Linked DNA regions of Homo sapiens: region 2 is linked to region 1. Evidence: fine-mapped expression QTL. A gene starts in region 1. The other region holds a variant in brackets. All regions are shown on one strand. Distances are between the middles of the regions.

What was found. PIP is the estimated chance that this variant, and not a neighbour inherited with it, causes the effect.
Region 2: its variant is fine-mapped to the expression of PCDHGA2 in blood mononuclear cells (TOPMed, PIP 0.92).

The regions. Positions count from the first base shown.
Region 1 is chr5:141,331,435-141,343,898 of GRCh38, reverse strand. It overlaps PCDHGA2 (protocadherin gamma subfamily A, 2), which reads right to left and starts at 5,139. Exons shown (of 4, transcript NM_018915.4): 1 at 2,504-5,139. The coding sequence starts at 4,927. It overlaps PCDHGA1 (protocadherin gamma subfamily A, 1), which reads right to left. Exons shown (of 4, transcript NM_018912.3): 1 at 10,794-12,464. It overlaps PCDHGA3 (protocadherin gamma subfamily A, 3), which reads right to left and starts at 70. Exons shown (of 4, transcript NM_018916.4): 1 at 1-70. It also overlaps PCDHG@. RefSeq lists a silencer at 10,000-10,229.
Region 2 is chr5:141,509,936-141,520,106 of GRCh38, reverse strand. PCDHGA1 (protocadherin gamma subfamily A, 1) reads right to left here. Exons shown (of 4, transcript NM_018912.3): 4 at 7,132-9,160. The coding sequence ends at 8,934. PCDHGA2 (protocadherin gamma subfamily A, 2) reads right to left here. Exons shown (of 4, transcript NM_018915.4): 4 at 7,132-9,160. The coding sequence ends at 8,934. It overlaps PCDHGA3 (protocadherin gamma subfamily A, 3), which reads right to left. Exons shown (of 4, transcript NM_018916.4): 4 at 7,132-9,160. The coding sequence ends at 8,934. PCDHGB1 (protocadherin gamma subfamily B, 1) reads right to left here. Exons shown (of 4, transcript NM_018922.3): 4 at 7,132-9,160. The coding sequence ends at 8,934. It also overlaps PCDHGA4, PCDHGB2, PCDHGA5, PCDHGB3, PCDHGA6 and PCDHGA7, and 15 more genes. RefSeq lists enhancers at 2,818-3,443, 3,444-4,069, 4,696-5,321, 5,293-5,542, 5,322-5,947 and 4 more. The variant C/G (reference allele first, on the strand shown) is at 4,603.

The sequences.
Region 1 (12,464 bases):
GTTGGCAGCCGCCCCGGATCTTCTGAGTCTGATTTGCTGGTTCTTTGCATTTTAGGAGCAAGGAAATGGTGGACTAGTTCTCCAGCTGCGTTCTCCTTCTTGAGTGGTCAACAGCGACACTAAGAGGCCTAACCGTTTACTGCATCCTCTCAGACACATTATTATTTTTGAATTATCCAAGATCTGAAATCCTTCTTGTCAGAGATAAGAGGACTAGTGTTGATTGAACATAATTGAATCGATATATGTTAAACAGTGTCACCTCAAGTTATCTTTCTTGGGAATCCATGCACTAACCTTAATGCCACCAATATTGCTTCAAACATAGTGGAGTTAACTTTTTTGAATTGTTCAGTTTAAGAAACACACAGTAACAAAGAACTGGCCGTAAGGACCAACACAACTATTAAAAGACATGACCACCACTTGTTCTTCCACCACTGAACCTTGATAATGTGTTTATTCTTATACTTACTACATTTATCAGGGTTATTTGATAAGATATCCACCTCCTCTTTGACCTTTCCCTCTCTATACTCTTAACTCTCTAAGAGCTGAGACAAGGAAAAAAAGAAAAGAAACACACAGAAATCAGCCATATTTATACATTATATTTCTTTAAGTTTGTTCTTGGTGACCTGATAACTTAGTTTCGATATTTGTTGTTATTTAATATTCATTAAACAAACACATAATTAGGCATCAGACAATATGTTTGGGGATTTAAGGTGAACAATATAGACACAGTAGCTTCCTTCACAGAGATTATAAGGATATAAAAGCAAACAGGGAATTGCAGTGTACTGAGATAATTACCATAATGGGAGAAGCCAAGGGGGTTAGGGGGGCCTTCAATTGGGCCTTTAATGTTAGCAAACGCTTTCCCAGGAAACATGAGAGGAGTGGATCAGTGAAAAGGCCTGGATGTGGGAGAGAACAGCATGACAATGCCTAGGTGTGAGAGAGAAATCACAGACCTTCAGGGTACTGAAAGAAGTTTCCTTTGTTTAAATCTAGACTGTAAGGATGTTTTTTCAAAACCAACTGAAACTAGTAGAAATAAGCTTTTATGTTCCAGAATCTCTTTCCCCATAAGTTTCCAAGCACAGAAATATAAATACAATATATTTGTCGTTTCAATCATGATGCATTACATATCTATGCATAAGACATTTATTCTTGTGGAGTTACTACACACACTAAAAATAACTTTGCTTTAATTTTCCTGTTTATACTTTATTATTCACTTACAAGTAAAGCTATTATGACATATTATTCCACAGTGAGTTCCAATTTTACTCATAGACAATTATGTAATAGTAACCAAAACAACACCTTGTCTCAGAAAATTTTTTCTTGATCAAATGCAACGGAAAGAATCACAGCACTTTGAGAAATATGGTATCATTCAATAAAAGGCTCAATTGGTACATGATAATTTTCAAATAAAAATAAAAAATGATGCCAGTTACATAGAACATTAGTGTGCTTATTATTCTCTGTTATTAAATACATAACCAACATACTAAAAGCCAATATAGGAAGAGGAATGGGAAAAGAAAATTGATCAGAGGGGCACTGGGATTGGGTGAGGGATTGGGAACATTTCTAGCAGCTATTGTGAGTAGAAACCTTGAGAAGAGAGATGTATAAAGAAGTTGGTTCTGGGCAATTGTATGATATGAATCTTTTGTATCTTTTCTTTAAGCAAAACTATATTGAGGATATATATTATTTTAAAGATTAAAATACAGTATGGTTCCCACGTATGAGAAAGATAAAAAAAAAGGAGAAACCTGTTTATTACCACTCTACAGCTTTATTATAGAGCAGATGATAAGTCAGTCACTTCTTCAAGAAGCATATAGCTTAGAGGTTAATGTGATTTTTAAAACTAAGCCAAAATAATATGACATACCTTCCTGAAACACTGTAAGGAATGTATATTTCTAAATTTCCATATTTTTAACAGGGAAGGGCATGCAAGTTAAGGAAAACAATTTTGCTGCCAAACTGAAAGAAATGTATTAAGACTGAATGAGAAAGAACTAGCCAACTAACATGTTTCACTGTTCATATACAGATTCAAATATAGAGTAAGAGTCATAACTTAAAAGAAGAAAGGACTTGAGTAAACATAAACTCCAATCTTTATATTTTTAACAAAGAAAAAATTGTTGATCTGGGTGGATGAGATGATTTGCCCAGGGATGGAGAAGAAAGTATAAGAAACCAGACACCCTAGTTCCTAATGCAGTGCTCTTTGGATAATCTTATCTATTAACTCCTGGTTTACATTCATTGCACAAAGATTCTCACGTCTCTTCTTCCTCTTACAGCCTGTGAACACTAAGACCTACCAAGAAATAATTCACCAAGACTCACTTCCTAAAACTTGACTCTACCCTCAAGGAAATATGGGGAACAAAATAGATATAGTAAACAAGTAAGTGAATTACTTCAGCAAACTAGCTAGTACGTATGTTGTGAAAAGATAGATTACCTGAGAAAACGTTTCTTCTCTTTCTTCTTCGAGTAGAGATTGAGGCGCTGATAAAAAATCCTTTTTCTCACAGCTCTCCTGGCTGATGAGCGTGTCCGCATAGTTGGGCTGGGGGAAAATCAGGTGGCTCTTCCGCGAGTCCGCAGTGAGGGAGACCTCGTGGGAATAGGTCTGCAGGAAAGCCCGAACCCCGTCCACGCCCACAAAGTGCGAGCTCTGCATGCCTGTCAAGCTGCCTCCTGAAGCCTGCAGCAGGCGTGACTTGTGCCAGCGCCGCAGCCTGTGCGCCAGCAACACGATGACGAAGGCCAGGAAGACGCAGGAGACCGCGGCCACCGCCACCACCAGGTACAGAGTGAGGTCCGAATCGTTGGGTATGGCGGAGGGCTCGAGGCTGCCCAGGTCGGCCAGGATGTCGGGGATCCTGTCGGCCACGGCCACGGTGAGCGTGACAGTGGCGGAGAGAGGGGGCTGGCCGTGGTCCTGGATGGCCACCACGAGGCTCTGCTTGAGCGCGTCTCTGTCCAGCAGGGCTCGCGCCGTGCGCACCTCGCCCGTGTGCAGACCCACCGAGAAGAGTCCCGGCTCGCTGGCCTTGAGCAGGTGGTAAGACAGCCAGGCGTTCTGGCCCGAGTCTCTGTCCACCGCCACCACCTTGGTCACCAGGTAGCCGGGCTCTGCGGAGCGGGGCGCCAGCTCCACGCCAGTGGAACCGTCTGTGGGGAAGGCAGGGTACAGGATCTCGGGCGCGTTGTCGTTCTGGTCCAGCACGAACAGGCTTAATGATACATTGCTACTGAGTGGAGGGTTCCCGCTGTCCCGCGCTATCACCCACACTTGCAAGTCTCGCAACTGCTCATAATCAAAGGAGCGCAGTGCATAGAGTACTCCAGTGTCGGAGTTGATAGAGATGTAAGAGGATAAGGGTGCCCCCTGAACAGTGTCCTCCGCGAAAGAGTAAGTTACATGAGCATTGTCGTTGCTGTCGGGGTCATGGGCCGTCACTGAGAAGACAGAGGCTCCTCTGGGGTTGTTTTCGGGAATGTAGGTGGAGTAGGATGTGCGGGAGAAGGCGGGTGCGTTGTCGTTGATGTCTGCCACCTGGAGCAAAATGTGAGCATCCGTGGACAGGGAGGGGTTCCCTCCATCTTTAGCGGTTAGAGTGATGTTGTAAAAGGAAAACTGTTCCCTGTCAAGGGCTCTGGTTGTAACCAGTCGGTAGTAATTGTCTACTGACTTTTCTAACTTAAAAGGAAGATCCTCGGGGAGTGAACAGGTGGTGAATGCGTTCTGCCCAGAGTCTCTATCATGTACATTAAAAAGCCCAATTATGGTTCCTGGAAGAGAGTCTTCAGAAACTGAGCTAGTAGCAGATGTCATGTAAAATTCTGGGGCATTGTCATTCACATCCAGAACCGTGACGATAACCTTCGCTCTGGTTAGAAGGCCCGGACCATCCTGAGCTTCAATATCAATTTCATGGAATGTAGCATCCTCATAATCTAGATCTTTTATGATTGTCAGTTCTCCAGATGTTGACTTAAGCTCAAATACCTCTGAGGTTTCTCCAGGGCTTTTCTCTAGAAAATATACCACTTGAGCGTAGTAGCCCTCATCTGCGTCAGTGGCGGTCACCGTGAGTATCCGGGTGCCCACGAGCGTATTCTCCGGAATGCTTATGCGGTACTCGGGCTGTGTAAAAACAGGCGCATTGTCGTTCGCATCCAGGACCTTCACGCAGATGCGGGAGGTGCCAGATAGCACTGGGTCACCCCCATCAGAAGCCACGAGAACGAGGTGGTGAACAGCCTCTTCCTCGCGGTCCAGAGAGCGCTCCAGCACCAGTTCTGGGTACTTGTTCCCATCAGCTCCCCTTCGCACGTCCAGGGAGAAGTGGTCATTTGGGTTGAGTGCGTACTTCTGAAGGGCGTTCTCACCTACGTCTGCATCATGCGCATTCTTAAGAGGAATCCGGAATCCTGGCGTAGTGGTTTCACTGATTTTTAGCTCCAGTTCCTCTACTCCAAAGCGAGGGGCATTATCGTTAATATCTGTTATTTCCACCTCTACTGAATAAATAGTCAATTTATCCTCCAGCAGAATGTTAAAATTCAACAGACAGGGTGCGCTCTGAGCGCAGAGCTCCTCCCGGTCTATCCTGTTCGCAGTGACCAAGCTGCCGCTTCGCGGGTTCAGAGCAAAGAGCTGGGACCTACCTCTGGAGACGATGCGGACTCCCTGCTCTGCCAGTGCCAGGGGCTCCAAACCCAAGTCCTTGGCGATGTTGCCTACGAAGGAGCCTCTGTCGATCTCTTCCCGCACAGAATAGCGAATCTGCCCGGCCCTGGCCTCCCACAGGGTCGCCAAAAGGAAGCACAGCAGGACCAGCTTTCTGCAGTGTGGCAACTTTTGCAGAGCCGCCATTTCCCTCCTGTCGCAATTTTCTCCGAGTCAACTTCCAGCATCCAGTGCGGATTCCAATCTTTATTCCTCAGGGTGTGAGATAACCAGCATTCACGGGACCCAGGTCCCTATGGAGAGAACTGGTGGGCTGTTCGACTGAATTTCTTTGGTGTCCTGAAGCTTTAGGGCCAAACCTCCACCCCCTTGTGCTGTGGGAGCCGTATTGCTGGATTGGATGTCTCGCTGCCTTTTACTCCTTAGGTGGTCAACAGCGACGCTCAGAGGCCTAAATAATTTCTGCACCTGCTCAGGAAAACCTAAGTTACTTCTTGTTTGTTTGCCTTTGTTGACTTTCAAGGCGCTTTAAAGAATCTTACAGCTCTAAGATACCCTAGAATTAGATCTTTCAAAACAGGAATCTTTTTATCAGGATTAATAAGAATGGTATAAATGAACATGATCTTGATAATAGTTGCTAGGAAAGTATTATTGACTGCTCAAGGCATTAATCAATGCCACCACTGCCCTTGCTCCAAACATCTTCCATCTCTTATTGTATAATCAGAAGCAGTAAGATCAATTAAGAAACGTTAGCTACGTTTTCTTCTAAGGTTATATATTTTGAACGTTTATGGTTGATGGCTTTGCATTTACCTTCAAAATCTGCCTTTAAATTATTGAATCATCAGACACTTAATTGGGTACATGTGCCTCCCACTTTGCATGATTGCAGCTGGAGCTAGAAATGGTGAACATGATAAACACAGGCCCTGGTCTCAAGCGTGAAGGTTGGAGGAGGACATAAGAAAGTAAAGAGAGTATAATAGAGTATGGTAACTGCTGTGATATGAGGTAGGAAACACTGGGTGATGGAGGAATACCTAGGAGGGGTATCCAGTCTAGATTTGGGGTCAGAAAAGTCTTTTTGAGGGCATGATTGAAGCTGAATCATAAAAAGTAGGATTGAATCAAGAAAAAGGCTGAAGAAGTGTTCTAGAACCTCTGAACAAATGCTTGAAGGTAAGAGACAGCATGGAACATTACAGAAACAGAAAGCAGGTCTATTTGATAAAGCTAGAGCCGGAAGGGGTTTTTCACCACACTAGGAATCAGTCACTCAAAATTGTTTGAGGTTGTCAAGTTCTTTTTCTGATATTCATTTTCCAAGGGTGTAAAATACAATGCAGTGGATGTCTTCTTACTCTTGTTTCATCTTTACCATTTTGACCATAGTCAAGCATACAATTCTGTGACATTAAGTACATTCAAATTACATTCTGGTGTGACCATTACCACCATCCACTTCCAGAACTTTTTCATCCTCCCCAACTGAAACTCTGTACTTATTAAATAGCAACTCCCCATTGCCTTTCACCCAGTCCCTGGCAACTACCATTCTACCTTTTTTCTCTATGAATTTGACTAATCTAGGAACTTCATATATGAGGAATCATACAGTATTTGTCATTTTATAACAGGTTTATTTCACTTGATATCATGTCTTTGAAGTTCGTCCATATTGTAGCATGTAACAGAATTCCCTTCCTTTTTAAGGCTAAATAACAGCCCATTGTATGTGTGAACCACTTTTTATTTACCCATTCATCTGTCAATGGACACTTGGGTTACTTCCACTTTTCAACTATTGTGACTAATGATGCCATAAACATAGGTGTACAAATATCTGTTGAAGTCCCTATTTTCACTTCTTTTGGGTAATAACCAGAGTGGAATTGCTGGATTATATGGTAATTCTATGTTTAAATTTTTGAGGAGTCACCATACCATTTTCCACAGCAGTTGTGTCATTTTATATTCACCAGCAATGCACAAGAATTCCAATTTCTCCATATTCTTGTTAACATTTCTTTTCTTTTCTTTTATGACAGCAATTCTAATGAATGTGGAGTAGTATCTCATTATGGTTTTGATTTGCATTTCCCTAATGACTAGTGATGTTGAACATTGTTTCATATGGTTTTGGCCATTTGTATATCATCTTTGGAGAAATGTCTATTCAAGTCCTTTGCTCATTTTAACATCCAATTGTTTGGGATTCTTTGTTGTTGAGTTCGAGTTCTTTATTCTGGATATCCATTCTCAGATACATGATTTGGAAACATTTTCTCTCTTTCTGTGGGCTGCCTTTTCACTCTATTGATATTGTTCTTTGCTGCATATAGTTTTTAACTGTGATAAAGTCCAGTATACAATTTTTTTCTTTTGTTGCTTGTGCTTTTGGTGTCATATCCAAGAAATCATTGCCAAAAATCAATGTTATGAAGGTTTCCTCCTGTTTTCTTCTAAGAGTTGTATAGTTTTAGTTCTTAAACATAATAACTAAAAGGGTTTTATTGCTTCTGAATATTGCTTCTTTGATCCATTTTGAATTAATTTTTGTATGTGGCATAAGTGGAATTGCCCATTTCTGGTGACACTTTAATCTGTTTGCCTTTTGGCTCCTTCCTTATTGAAATTTTCTCATTTTTACTTTCATCCATTCCTCTTACAAGACTGAAGAAAAATATATTGGAAATAATTGATACCAACTCACCATGTTTTCTTGTAGAGCTACTATGGTATATTTTGCTTTTGTTTTTTATTTTTATTTTTGTGTTTGTGTTTGTGTTTTTTTGTTTTATAGAGATTGGGTCTTGTTATACTGCCCCGGCTGGATTCAAACTCCTGGGCTCAAGCAATCCTACTGCCTCAGCCTACTCAGTACCTGGGATTATAGGTGTGCCATTGTGCCTGGCTCTCTTACATGAGTCCTAACGTTAGACTTGACAGAATTTTCATTTTCTCCCCACTGGTTTTATTACATTTATTGTCTGCTTCCATTATTTCATCCTCAGAACTCTTCCATGGTTGCATTTCAAAAATGTAACTCTTTGTTATTTTTTCCATCATTTTATTTTAGTATATACTCATTGTATGTTTTTTATCTTACTTCTTGAATGGCAAGCTAAATTCATGTATTTTAAATAATTTTGTTTGCTTTTAAAAAAATTATTGCATTTGTCTATAAACTTACTCCTAATTAGTTTTAGTTGCATCTCACAATTTTTAATAAAGAATATTTAAGTCCTTTTTTTCTGAGTAGTTTTCATTGTCATTGTGATTTTTGAAATCCAAGAGTTATTTAAGGGTGTAGATGTAAATATCCAAACTTTTTCCCTTTTCTATTTTTAAATGTTTGCTTTGTGATTAAGTATGTGTTGTAAGGCAAGTATATTATTGGTACTTTGCAATTTGCTGAACCCTTTTTTGTAATGACTAGGTAATAAACTTGTAGATTGTCTGCTTGTTCAAGGATGACTATTCCATATTTGTTGTGTGCAGAACGGATCTATTAGAATCCTAATAGATCAAGCTTCTAAATTATGTTGTTCAAATCTTCTTTATGTTAACTAACTTTCTTCCTGTGGGGTCTATTATTTCTTATGGAATTATGTTTAAATATTCCGGTATTTTCTAAGCTATATTTTTCAGTAATAGAAGCTTATATTTTTATATCCTTTTGATCATCTGCTCTTTTTACAACTATAATCAGTTCATTTTTTAAAATCACAATTTGTGTTTGTTACCTTAAATATGACTTTGTTGTTACATTAACATGACTTTCTTTTTTGTGTGTGTACATATATATTTAGTTTCACTGTTTCAGTGTATTTTTATTTTAAGCACGTGTATTATTAGAATATGGATTTTAAAAATCAACCAGTTTTGTAATATTTGTCCTTTAATAGGTAAATGTAGCTCACTTGTATATACACAGAAAAAAAATTATGATTATAAGAGCTGAGAAAGTCCAGAAGTGAGATAACTTAGTTATCAATTGAGAGTATACTCTTGGTACCAAGCAAAAAATAAAAATAAAAATGCAACAGACACACAGCAAGAATGAGAGAAAGTCTTCAATAGTTACCAGAGAGAAAACAGAGATTACCTTAAAAAATAACAGTGTGTTGACAGAAAGTTTCTCACTAGTAACAATAAATTCTACGAGACAAGTGTGTTTTGAAATTTTGGTTTGTATATTTATTTTTAGTGGAAGAGCTCTGTTTGTTTTTAGTTTTAGTTTGTTTTTTTCTCTTCTACACTATATCCCTCTCTCCTTCCCTCCTGGGTTCAGTGCTCATTTGTAATGGTTTTGAAATAGTTTCTATCTGACCTCAGGTCCCAGGCCATAACTAGGTCTCTTAATGACGCTTTAATGATGCACAGCAGTGATATTCTGGATACCACAGCTCACATATGAGATACTTGGTGTTCGCTGTCTCTATCCAGCATCCGTGTCTGTCTCTCTCTCTTGGTCTACACAGCTTACGAAGAAAGTTATAACCACCGGAATTGGGAAACAGCTTTTATTATTATATTTATTTATTTAACAGGGTGTGGCTCTGTCGCCCAGGCTGGAGGGCAGTGGCGCGATCACGGTTCGCTGAAGCCTTGACTTCCTGGGCTCAAGGGATCCTCCCACGTCAGCTCCTGCCCCGCCCCGCCCCGCCCCTCCCCGCCCCGCGTAGCTGGGACTACAGTCGCAGGCCGCCCTGTCCGGCTGGTCTTGAACTCCAGGGCTCCAAGGATCTTTCCGCCTCAGCCTCTCAAATTGTTGGAAATACAGACGTGAGCCACTGCGCCCAGCTAGGCAGCATGTTAATGCATCTTTCTTTTCCTTTTTAACCAGCTGAAGGGCCTCATTGCTTATTTTGGATTCAGGCAGTAAGCCTGGTCCAGATATTTATCTAGTCTGAAGCACTTCTGTCCCTATTACATTGCTGGAGGCAGTTTCCTAACCTTCAATTTCTGCTTTTAAGTCCAAGACTATAACTCACATGGCTTTAGACTAGCTCACCACTTTGCTTTTGCTTTCCTCTTATATTTTATGTATCTCTGTATTTTATTGGAGCAGAGTAAATACATCAAAGCATGGACTTACTCCCCGACCATACTTTTTTTTTCTTCTGAAAAGTTAACACACATTAAAATAGGATATATACTTGATTTTTGTTAGCTGATTTCATTACAGGTATAATGTATAAGTCAGGAGGCTTCAAAGATATTTCTCAAGTTGCATGATAAATTTTGTGTTGTTCATTTTGTTACTTCATACATTACTTAAATAGACGTATTCTTCAGTACAGGCACCACAGCTCACACCTGTAATATCAGCACTTTGAGAGGCTGAGGTGGGAGGATCGCTTGAGCCCAGGAGGTAGTGGCTGCAGTGAGCCATGATCATGCCACTGCACTCTAGCATGACCCCATCTCAAAACCAAAAAAATCTGATAATAAAGATAGAATAAAAGGCTAAAATATTCAACAATAATTTAAAATTGCAGTTTATATAGATCTCTATAATCTTATATGAACACAACTAAAAATACTACTTTAGACAATCTTCACCTCTTCAAATGTCCCCAAATAAACTATCACAGTGTCCTGACAGATGACATCTACATTAAATTCAGGGGTAGATTAGCAGGTACTTATAAAAAGAAAATTTGAAAATAGTGTTAGTCATTTAAATATTGGTGAGCCTTTTCTAATCAAACCTTTTAGCCCAGAGGCAAGTAAGAAAATGTTAGAAGCTAGATCGCCGTTTCTAATGCAGTGCTCTTTCCAAACAGAGATGGCATCTCACACATACCTTCAACCCAACCACCTACATTATGATCACAGTCTCCTTTTCAGTGCAAGAACAATTATAAATATACCTGCATATGAACGTGTAGACTCAATCGTGATTTTGCAGGACTTGTAATAAAAAGCTACAAAGATACATGGGTTAGAAGAACTATCTGTAGCAAAGAGCGAACGCTAGTAAGTTAAATCAAGAATTATTTTTCTCTAGATAGCTGATACATTCATCACAAAAGTTTACCTGAGAAAATGGTTCCTTTTTGTCTTCAAGTAAAGACTGGGGTGCTGATAGAAAACCCTTTTTCTCACAGCTCTCCTGGCTGATGAGTGTGTCCGCATAGTTGGGCTGGGGGAAAATCAGGTGGCTCTTCCGCGAGTCCGCAGTGAGGGAGACCTCGTGGGAATAGGTCTGCAGGAAAGCCCGAACCCCGTCCACGCCCACAAAGTGCGAACCGGGCATGCTCGCTAAGCCGCCTCCCGAAGCCTGTAGCAGACGTGACTTGTGCCAGCGCCGCAGCCTGTGCGCCAGCAGCACGATGACGAAGGCCAGGAAGACGCAGGAGACCGCGGCCGCCGCCACCACCAGGTACAGAGTGAGGTCCGAATCGTTGGGTTTGGCGGAGGGCTCGAGGCTGCCCAGGTCGGCCAGGATGTCGGAGATCCTGTCGGCCACGGCCACGGTGAGCGTGACAGTGGCGGAGAGCGGGGGCTGGCCGTGGTCCTGGACGGCCACCACGAGACTCTGCTTGAGCGCGTCTCTGTCCAGCAGGGCTCGCGCCGTGCGCACCTCGCCCGTGTGCAGACCCACCGAGAAGAGTCCCGGCTCGCTGGCCTTGAGCAGGCGGTAGGACAGCCAGGCGTTCTGGCCCGAGTCTCTGTCCACCGCCACCACCTTGGTCACCAGGTAGCCGGGCTCTGCGGAGAGGGGCGCCAGCTCCACGCCGGTAGAACCATCTGTGGGGAGGGCGGGGTACAGGATCTCGGGCGCGTTGTCGTTCTGGTCCAGCAGGAATAGGCTGAGAGACACGTTGCTGCTGAGGGGCGGATCCCCACTGTCCCGCGCCATCACTTTCAGTTGCATGTCCCGGAACTGCTCATAGTCGAAGGATCGCAGCGCATACAGGACCCCAGTGTCGGAGTTGATGGAGAGGTAGGCAGATAGGGGTGCCCCCTGGATAGTGTCCTCTATTAGGGAGTAAGTGATTTGTGCATTCTCATTGCTGTCCAAGTCGTGGGCCCTCACAGAGAAGATGGAGGCTCCTCTGGGGTTGTTTTCGGGAATGTAGGCAGAGTAGGAGTCCTGATGGAAGACTGGGGAGTTGTCATTGATATCTGTCACTAGTAGTGAAATGTGAGTTTCAGTAGATAGAGCTGGAGTTCCTTGGTCTATTGCTGTTATTGTGATGTTGTACCCAGAGATAAGTTCTCTGTCCAGTGTTCTTTCAGTCACTAAACGGTAATAATTATCAACTAACTTTTCCAATTTAAAGGGTAAATTTCCAGGAATGAAACATGTGGTGTAGCCATTGTCTCCTGAGTCCTGGTCATGCACACTGATAAGAGCAATTATGGTCCCAGGAGGAAAGTTTTCTGGAACTGCAGTGGTGACAGAGGTGATGGTCACTTCTGGGGCATTATCATTTACATCCAAAACTTTGATCAGTACCTTAACTTTAGCCATGAGCCCCGCACCATCCTGGGCTTGAACTTCCATTGAATACATTTTGTATTCTTCGAAATCTAGTGGTTCTTTATTTGATATTTCTCCTGTGTAAGAATCTAAACGAAATATTTGGGCCACTCTGTGGTCTACATTGTGAAAGGAGTACGTTACTTCCCCATTGGCTCCCTCATCAGGGTCAGTGGCATTTACCATGAGCAGCTGAGTACCCAGCGGCACGTTTTCGGGGAC
Region 2 (10,171 bases), 180 kb before region 1:
GTAATAGTTCCTAGCCTACGTTTTATAAAGGTCTTTTTTCAAATCACTAACCTTTTTAAAACTTGCGTTATATGGTTGATTTTGCTGGTGTTTTTATCCTAGCCCACCCCTAACTTCTAGGAATCTGTCCTCAGAGAGCATTCACCAGTATCTCAACATTGTTCCCTTTTCCCACACAGCCTGTGGGACTGTTCTCTTGTAGTCAAAATATTTATCTGGTTCTATGGCTACTTTTCAATAGTCTAATAACAAGTGAGTAAGTTGGGGGAAGCATGGGGAGGTCAGTTTTTCTTGACTGTTCAACCTGCTGAGCATAATGGTGAGTGAGTGGAAAGCTGGGAGACCTGTTCCAACAAGAGCTTTCTCATCCCCTGACCTTAGGCCAAATCACACCCTCCCTGGTGTATAGGCTTTCAAGGCTTAAAAGGGAAATTTTGATCTTCTCCCTACCTACTCTCTGCTCCTGGTTCTTATGAAGTTTGTAATACATCAGAAGCTTCTTGAGTCCAGAAAAGTCTAGAAACACCACTTGGTTAGGTACAACTGGTATCTTCTTATTTTGGAGGAAGAAACCACAGAAAGCAGCAGCTAAAGACCTACCACATGGGACCTCTGCCTTCTCCTGTGTTGCCCAGGACAAGTGGCCCAGTGTTCTTTTCCCAAGGTCTGGAGTCAGATGTTATTTCAACATATATATACCACTAGAGTTACACACACACACACACATGCACAGAGTCGCAGTGTCTTCTCAACTGTTGGAGACTGAATTCAAAGAAATAATAAAATGATAGGAAACTACTACCCTTCTGGATATGAGAAATGGGGTCTAGAGAGGGAGTACTTCAGAAGAGAGTGGAAATGTAGGAGGCCTGAGGAAGATTTTGGTGGTAAGGACAGTATGAGAAATGCACACATGTAGACCATCATAGTCACACTCACGTAGGCTCCTTTTCCTCACTTGTCTCAGTCACGGGGCATTAGTTTATGTTCATAATCCAATAAATGGTTTTGTGAAAATCCCACAGTCTCGGGCACATACCTATGATCTGTAACTAGATAAGTCCTGTGGCTGTCAGTCAGGGTCTTCACTATTCTTTCTCCTCTTGGTAGACAACCTCTTGTGCCCCTGGGAAGTAGAGGAGGAGGAGGAGACCTTTAAATTGGTAACCTGTGTGCATGCTGCGTGTTCCCTGCTTGATCTATGGGCAGCCTCTCCTGGGATGAAAACAGTAGCTCTGGGTCATGGCTCTGCAGGGAGAGAAGACCTGGTTAAGACTTGGGCTTTGGCAGGCTGTGGTGACTCATGCTTGTAATCCCAGAACTTTAGGTTCCAAGGTGGGAGGATTGCTTGAGCCCAGGAGTTCAAGACCAGCCTAGACAACATGGAGAGACCCCATCTCTGCAAAAAAATACAAAAATAGCCAGATATGGTGGCACATGCTTATAGTCCCAGCTACTAGGGAGGCTGAGGTGGGTGGATCACTTGAGCCTGGGAGGTTGAGGCTACGGTGAGCTGTGATTGCGCTGCTGCACTCCAGCCTGGGCGACTGAGATTCCATCAAAAAAAAAAAAAAAAAGACGGGCTATCTGATCCTGTTTGGCTTCTGCCTACCTAAAGCTTTTTGCTGGTCCAAAAAGGCGCTTCATTCCAGTCATGCAGCTGCCCCAGTCTTGGTCTTTATTTAGGAGTGCTCGGCTCTTTCATCTGGTCCTGCTTCTAAAACATTCCGGTACTGCTTTCTCCACTCCAGCTTTCCCAGATCTCCAGGAAGTCTTTTTTTTTTTTTTTTTTTTCCAATTGAGCTATCATTTACATACCTAAAATTCACCTTTTAAAAATGTATAATTCAGGGGTTTTAGAATATCCACAAGATTGTATAACCATTACTATCTAATTCCAGGACGTTTCATCATCCCCAGAAGAAAAACTTCATAATCCCCATTAGCAGTCACTACTGATTCTCCCCTCCCCTTGCCTCTGGCAACCACCAGTCTATTTTCTATCTCTGGGTTTGCCTGTGCTGGACATTTCGCAGAAGCTGACCCATAACATATGGCCTTTCGTGTCAGGCTTCTTTCGTCCCAGACAGCTGTTTGTGTATACACAGTTGCTCTGTGCTGTTCTGGGGCATGGGAGGAGGAAACATCATGAGATGGGCATGGTCTCAAGGAGTGGCCTTCCTGCTGCAGATACTGGGGCCATAAGCCTAGATACCATAAATGAATATGAGAGTCTTGGGGATGAAACCCAGCAGTTAGAACAGAAACTCGTGGATTGATTTGGTTCTTCTTTTCTAATCTGGTATGACAGCCGGAACTTGACCATCTCTTAGCCACCTGGGCTGAGATTTCTTGGTAGGGGTCCTCTCCTGTCCATCTTTATCCCAGTTCTGCTTCCCTGGCATAGTTTTTATTACTACCTCCCCCCCGCCATGCCACCCCCACATACTCTACACACCTTGTAGGGCCCTTGGCATTTGTATTACGGCTGCTACCTTTGAAGGGGTGGGAAAGAGCTAAGGCATGTGGGCATCTGTTGTTGGAGGAACACGTGGGAGTGCGGTGTCAGTGCGTGGCTGCTGTTCCTCTTTGCGGGAGTCTCTCCAGCCACTTACGGAAGGTTGCCTTCTGCTAGGGACAACCCTCCCAGGGCTGACTGAGAAGTGTTTTGGCCTAGGAGTTTCCTGGGACCTGTCAAGAAAACAAAAATAATACTATGTACTAAACTTTAGTCTATTTAATTCCAACATCCCTATTACGAGAAAATAGACTTTGAATACTTCATCTCTCCTTAAGTCACATAGCTAACACTTCAGCCCAGTTCTGTCTGTCTGTGTTCAAACTTTTGTGCTGTTTTCACACAGGGAAGCAAGGGGGCAAGGCTTGCTTTCCTGTTGCACCACACTCTCTTACATTCTTTGCCACCCAACAATATATTCCACATGCTGGATCTCTGCCCCTTTCTTCAAAGTAAGGGCCTCTGTGAAGTGGCCAAGGTAGTCATGTCTGCATGGCTTACGCTGATTATCTGCTGTAGAGTTTGAAAGAAATTAGAAATGAGGCCTTCCATAGACAGAATCTCTCGTCTTCTCTTGCAGCCAACAGGAAGGCCGGGTGTGCAGTCACATCTCTGCTAGCTTCGGAGCTGACCAAGGATGATGCCATGGCTGCTGTTCCTGCCAAGGTGTCCAAGAACAGTGAGACATTCCCCACAATCCTTGAGGAAGCCAAGGAGTTGGTTGGCCGTGCAAGCTAATGTGGGTCCTGTGACCGCGGCAGCTCCTCAGCGGAGCCGCAGACTGTCCTGCCCTGCAGCATGTGCCTAAAGGCTCAAGGGGATATTCCTCTGGGGTGGCCACTCCCACCACCCTGACCCTGTCTTTCTCTCTGGCCTGCTGCTCTCTCAACATCACATACAGCTTCAGCTGCCTGGAGGCCAGAAGGAAAGGGCAGTGCAGGGGAGGCCTGAGCCCGACTTAGCCAGCCCTGGCTGTTGTATTACCAAAGCAGGGTCCATGTTTGCTGCCTTAACCCTGTCTCCTCTCTGTTACTCAGAGGGCCTCATCTCAGACAAGGCCCAGCCTGCTTTTTCTCAGCCCTGACTTTCTAATGGGCTTTCCCCCCTAGGTCAGTCTTGCTGGATTTGTGCTTTTCTTTTGTGGTTTCTCTGGCCCTGAGAATAGCATGGGGCTTGTAAACCTTTGGGCTAGATCCCTCCTTTCATTGCTGTTGTCTCTGCTCTTCCCTCTCCTGGCTGTGGTTATTTATTATTAGTGGTGTGGCACTGGGAGCTGCTCCTAAGGAAGCAGGGAGCAAATCCCACCTTTACCCCACCTTCCTGGGAAAGGCCTCCAAAGCAAAGGATCTGGACCAGTTTCCCTGCTGTGCTGTGGCCCAGGCCAGAGCCTGTGGGCAGGCAGGCAGGGCATAGCGACAGTGTGGGACCTGCCCCCAGCTTCTGCCACGCTTTATGCCCTTGCCTCTCTGGACGCTCTGCACCAACCCCAGGCTACTGAGCCACCTTCCCTCCTCATGCCTTCCCTGAGCTTTGGTGCATCTCATCTGGACTATGGGTTGTACTGTGACCATCCCAACACCTCACCCTCTGTCTACAAGGAAATGGGAGGTGGAGCCTCCTGGCTGAGAAATTGTTTTGCAAATGGATCTATTTTTGTATGAAAAAAAAAATTTTTTTAAAGAAAACTGTTCCTTCCCCCTTTCCCCTCCATAATGTAAGAAGCTTTGGTGGCAGGTTACAGAGTTCTGGGATTTCTTCTCACAGGCCCAATCCTGAATGTGCCCCTGGACCTTCTGGACCCTTGAGTCCAAGGCAGATCCTCTCTCCCAGGGAATCCGACACAGGAGGAACCCCTTCTCTGGTTGAGCTGGGCCAGGCCTAAGAGTAGCAGGAACTCTAAGACCACAGAGTTTTTTATAAATGTATAAATGTATCAAGCCAAATGTGCAGATGCTAACTGGACATTCTGGGGAACTGGGCACCAGGAGTGCCTTCATACACTGTACCCCAGCTCTCTTCTAAAAGAGAAGTGGGTGGGCACACTGAACTGTTTGGTGGCCCCAACCACAGGAAGCTGCAATTCT[C/G]TGGCTTAGGGTGATACTTTTGCCCTCCTTGTGCCCCTCTCAGCTTTCCATCCCCAGCTAGGAAGAAAGAATGGCACTCTTGGGCTTGGCCCAGAATTAGAGTTATTAGAGCAAGAGAGAGCTTAGGAAGCATGAGGGCAACTATAGTGAGGCCTTATTGCCAGGAGGGAGGGTTTTGGTTGCTGGCGCTTGTGTATAAAGGGGCAAGAGCAGCTCCTTTGGACTATTCCTGGGAGGACTCTGATGCAGGGCGTCTGTTGCTCCCCTGGGTCACCTCCTCCCTGCTCGCTGACATCTGGGGCTTTGACCCTTTCTTTTTTAATCTACTTTTGCTAAGATGCATTTAATAAAAAAAAAGAGAGAGAGAGAGAGGTGTGAGGGACAAAATGCAAACCTATTTCCCTTGCCTCATAGGCTTCTGGGATGTCATCACCTCCAGTTTGTTGGTTTTGTTTCCAACTGTTAATAAAGCATTGAAACAGTACTGCCTTACAGCTTCCTGTGTGAATTTCTGAGCTGTTTTCTTTTCACTCTAGTCCAGGCTCCTCTAGTCTTTCCTGCCTCAAATCCCTGGTTGACCTGACAAATCACTGTGAAAAAGCTAAAGGTGCCAGACACTTTACTTGGGCACAGGGCTAGAGATGATTAATACATGGTGGCTGCTGCCCCACCAGAGCTCACCTCAGGGCCGTTTGGCCACAGTAAAGGAGTGGGCGCCTGGTTCAGCTCCCTGACTCTTCCACATTGCTGCTACTTGGTTTGGAGCCCTTTTTTGGAACTCACTTGGAACCTTTCATGTTCCCAGATGTCACGCAAGGTTTCCTGGCAGTACCTGTGTCTCTTGCTGAGGGAAGCATCTGGCTCCCATTTTCTCATCCCCTCTGCTCTGTTGGTGGCCACAGACCACATTCCAGAGTAGAGGGGTTTACCCTGGGGTGGAAACCTGAGCCTGCCCAGCAGAGGTTGGGAGCCTGAGGTCATGCTCCAGATGACTTGCCACTTGGAGCCATACTTGTCTGAGCACGTTATGACCTGCACAAAAAAGCCAGACCAGCAATGAGCAGGCCCAGGATAGACAGGGAGAGGCCTGGAGAGGACCACAAACCCATTCGGGCGGGCTCTGGAACTGGAAATAAAAGCCTTTTAAATAGCCCTGGAGCCTGGGCAGCTGCCTCCTCAGTATGGCCTGAGGTGTGGGGATGGGTTGCCTGCCGCCTCCCTCCCGTCCCCCCGGAGGCCACGCCTTTCTGGTTCAGAGCTTTATAGGCACACATACCAATTAGGGGACAAACCACAGCTGCTCACGCGCTCTGCCAGTCTGCTGCTGTGCCTGGAATAGAACCCAGGCGCCCGGCACCCCGCCCCTCCGCAGCCTGGCTCTGAGTAACAAAACCCTGCTTCCATCTCAGCAACCGTGCACACCACCCTTCCTCCCACGCTAGAAAGTCGCCCCCAGATTCTTAAGTTGGAAGGTTTGGTTCCCATGACAACAGACTTGAGCTGGCAGAATGGGTGACCTGGCTCTGGGAGCCTCCGCAGCGCGGAGGAAGCCGCATACCCTTGCTGACCAGCCAGATAACCGCAGTGGCTCTGTCTTTGTGTTCTTGGGTCCTTCCGGGTAGTTCCCCTTTTAAGTCCCCCTTCACCCCCAGCTCCGTGTTTTTCTGCAGCTTCTCTGGCTGCAGCAACCTCGGAATCCCACAGTGCTTCGAGGAGGCAGGCGGAGGGGGCGGGGAGATGGGAGAGCAGGCGAGTGAGTGGAAAAGCACCGACAGGAAGGAGGGAGGGGAGCTGAGTCTGCGATGGATCTCATTTCCTGCACGTCCTTTCAGTCCCCTTGACCCCCGCAAGAAGAGGATGAGCCCTCCAATTTCTTAGGCTTCGCTACGGAGATGTCAGCGGGAAGGCGAATTCCAGATGGGGAAACTGAGGCTCGAGCTGCAGACTTGGCTTTGGAAGAATCACCTCCCGCATTCCCTCCCACTCCCGCGGCTTTCCCAAAACCCCTAGGCAGCGGGGGTGGGGGTGCGGGGGCAAAGGAGAGTCTACCCTCCTCCCGTGAAGCCCTCCGGGGCGCTTCGGGTAGGCAATTTTAGTCAGGAAGGGGCGGGAACTAACGAAACGTCCTCTCCCCTCTACCCAAGGCGTTTGCCCGGCGCCAACCCGCCCCCGCCCGCGCCGGGGTCTCCTCTTCTGCCTGGAGACAGCCGCAAGCTTAGACTGCACACTCCACTGCACACTGACACGCCGCACTCAGATCCCCACCCCCACAGCGGACCGATCACACAATGGCACACGGTACACAGATCCATAGGCACACAATCGCACACTGTCTCATAGGCACAACGGCATTGCAAGCATACACAACCATATTGCACAGTCACACACACACACGCAATTCGGAAACATCTAGACGCGCAATGACACAAAGTGGCCTCCCGATTCCGCCCTTCTTCCAGCACCCACCTCAGCTCATCACTTCATGCACACATGCCAGGAGCTTCCATCGCTTATACAGAAACGTTCAGCTTTTCAGAAGAAACGTTTTATTATTTTTTTGTCGAAGAAAAAAAGCCATATAAATATTAGAGTATAAAACTTGCGTGAGACACAGGAAGAGGGTGGGGTGGGAGCTACGTGACTATGCGAAGAGAAGCGCTTATAGGAGAAGTCAGTACGGGGGAGGGGGTCGCCTTAGCGCGTGGACACAGCACAAAACACAACACGGGCCGCCGCGGGCAGATCAAGGACAGACGGCTGCGCGGAGCCCGCCGCCCGCTGCCCACCCGCCATCACGTAAAAGCACACCGCACTACACTACTGGCTATTCTACACCAGCCGAAAGAGGGAGGGGGCGCTACACTACTGTAAGGGCAGGTCTGGGGTTCTCTGGCAGCCCCGCTGGATGGCCGGGGACCCAGGGGCAGAAGGGGGTGGGAGAAGAAGGTCTATGCACAAGGAGGCACTGGGGAACTTTAACCAGGCTATGGCCACTAGGGGGCGCACTGGGGACCTGGGCAGTGGCCTTCACGGAAGAGAAACGGCACCTGGCAAGGTGAAGGACTGAGGCTTCAGGAGGGCAGGGGCCCTGTTGAAGAAGCCCCATCCTGGGCTGAGACTTTCTGTTCATTTGGTCCCTGCCCTAGCTCCCTGCCTCCCCAACCCAGGGACTAAGAATGGCCTGGCTGGCCCACCCTTCCTGCTGGGGCTCCGCTGACCCTTCCACCAGTGGCACCTCTGGAGTACCCAGCACCCACAGAGGCCCCTCTGACCTCTCAAGGGGACCTGGTCCTAAACCTGCTTCGAGCTTCCTTGGACTGAAATGCCAGTTTAATCCATTGGTCCTGTTAGCTCAGCCCAAAGCTGGCTGCCTGGGCTGAGCCCTATTATGTAGTGGGAAGGGTCCAGCCTAGTTATTGGTTTATGGCTGGAATCTGGAGGATGTTGTCAGTCCCCTGAGGACATACAGAGCCTCCTCCAAGGCCTTGATAACTTGATGTGTCAAGCTTTGTCCATGCCCCCACCATCCACATCCACACACTTCCCTTCCTTATCTTACCACCCCATACTGTCTTGGAACATGCAGTGGAGTCTCTTGTTTGAGGAGGAGGTGGGGGAAGTCAAGGCATGCAGTGGAAACGTCAAACAATGAAAAACAAAACAGAAGACTGGTCCCCAGGGCGTTGGGAAGAGGCTTGGTAGCAAAATGCCCTCCCTAAATCCAGCAAGCATCAGTACCATGGGGATGGTGATCATGTCCTCCAAAACTTGAGCATTGATCTTGGGCTCTGGAAGGAGGTGAAGGGGCTGGCACCAAACCATGCTTTGGGGGAAGATTGAGAATCAAAGGAGAGGCCAAGAGGTCATGATGCCCTTCCAACTTTTCAGAACTAGGAGGCTTGTAGGTTACTTGGTACTTCAACACCCCAACCACCTTACTCGGGAAAGAGGAACTGTTGGAGTGGGGTGGGGAGGAGGGAGGCATGGGATGGATGGGCCTGATTGATTTGGAAGATGGAGGAGTTCAGCTGTAACTAAACGGGGTGTGGCAAATGGTTCTTGGTGTCTACAGTAACCCCACTACCCCCATGGGTACAGCAGTTGATTGGATGGGGGTTCCCAGCGGAACTGCTTTTGCATATTCAACCCCCTGGGGGGGAAGGGGTAGGTGCTGACTGGGCACTTGTTTCTGTTTCCCAAGGGGAGCATGGCCTTGGCCCCTACCAGTATTCTGGGGGTTAGCCCTGAAACTCTGAGGCCTGGGTGCAGGTAAGGAGAAGCTGGGCTGGTTGGGGAGAGGCCGCCCTGTGGCTCTTGGCCTGGCCTCCATGTTACTTCTTCTCCTTCTTGCCCGACTTCTTCTTGTTGCCATTGCCACCTGCTGGGGCCTTGCCATCCCGCTTGCCAGCTGCGTTGGTCAGTGTGGCATTGCTGCCTGGGATGTAGACATTCTGGCGGTAGTCGGGCACGTGCTGCAGGGTGAACTGGGGTCCGTAGCGGGCGCTCAATCCCATGGTGCCGGCACCCCCTCCCAGGGTGGAGCTCCCATCAGCAGCTTCTGCAGAGACAGAGGAAGATCAGGTGGGAGCTAAACTTAGGGTCCTCAACAGTCACTGTCTTATATCCCCAGCAGTTAATGAATGCCTATACAGCACCCTGGGCCTTGACCACGCTGAGCACTGGGAATATAGGGGTCACCAAGGTAGTCTCTCTTCACAAGAGTTGAGGGTAGAGGTTAAGAGGCTCTGGAGTGAGAAAGTCTAGGTTTGATTCCTAGCTCCTTTCCTTACTCACTGTGATCCTGGGCAAGTCTACCTAACCTCCTTATGCCACTTCAGTTTTCTCATCTGCAAAATGGGGATGATAATGGTAACCACCTCTTCTGGTTTTAGTGAATGCTAAATAAGAAAATGTATGTCAGGTACGTAAAATAGTGCCTGGTAGATGTAAGTGCTCAAAACACATTCGCTGGTATTTCTCTCAGGGCTGTGACACGGGCTCTCAGTTCCTTGCCCTGGCTTTCTCAAGGGAGCCTCTGACTCCCACACTAGACCATGGGCTCCTGGAGGGCAGCAGCCATGAAACCATGGCTTTACATGCCCCTAGCCTTTGCCAAGCAAGGCCTGGCACGAGTAGAGATTCGGTAGTTCCGTTAGTAAGTGTGTGGGGTGGGGGTGAAGAGTGCTCTTCCAAGCCTCCATTTCAAAACAGCATTTTTTTTTTTTTTTTTTTAAGATGGAGTCCTGCTCTGTCGCCCAGCCTGGAGTGCAGTGGCGCGATCCCGGCTCACTGCAACCTCTGCCTCCTGGGCTCAAGTGATTCTCCTGCCTCAACCTCCTGAGTAGCTGAGATTACAGGTGCACACCACTAGCCCAGCTAATTTTTGTATTTCAAAACAGCATTTGAGCACCTACTGTGTGCCAGGCACTCTGCTGGATGCTTCACATGCACAATCACTTTTAACCTCTACATAACAGCCCAGCCAGCTATGTGGTATGACCCTCATTTTACAGATGAGGGAACCAAGTGTTAGAAGGACCAAGGCCATACCCGGTAGCATTTGTTAGAG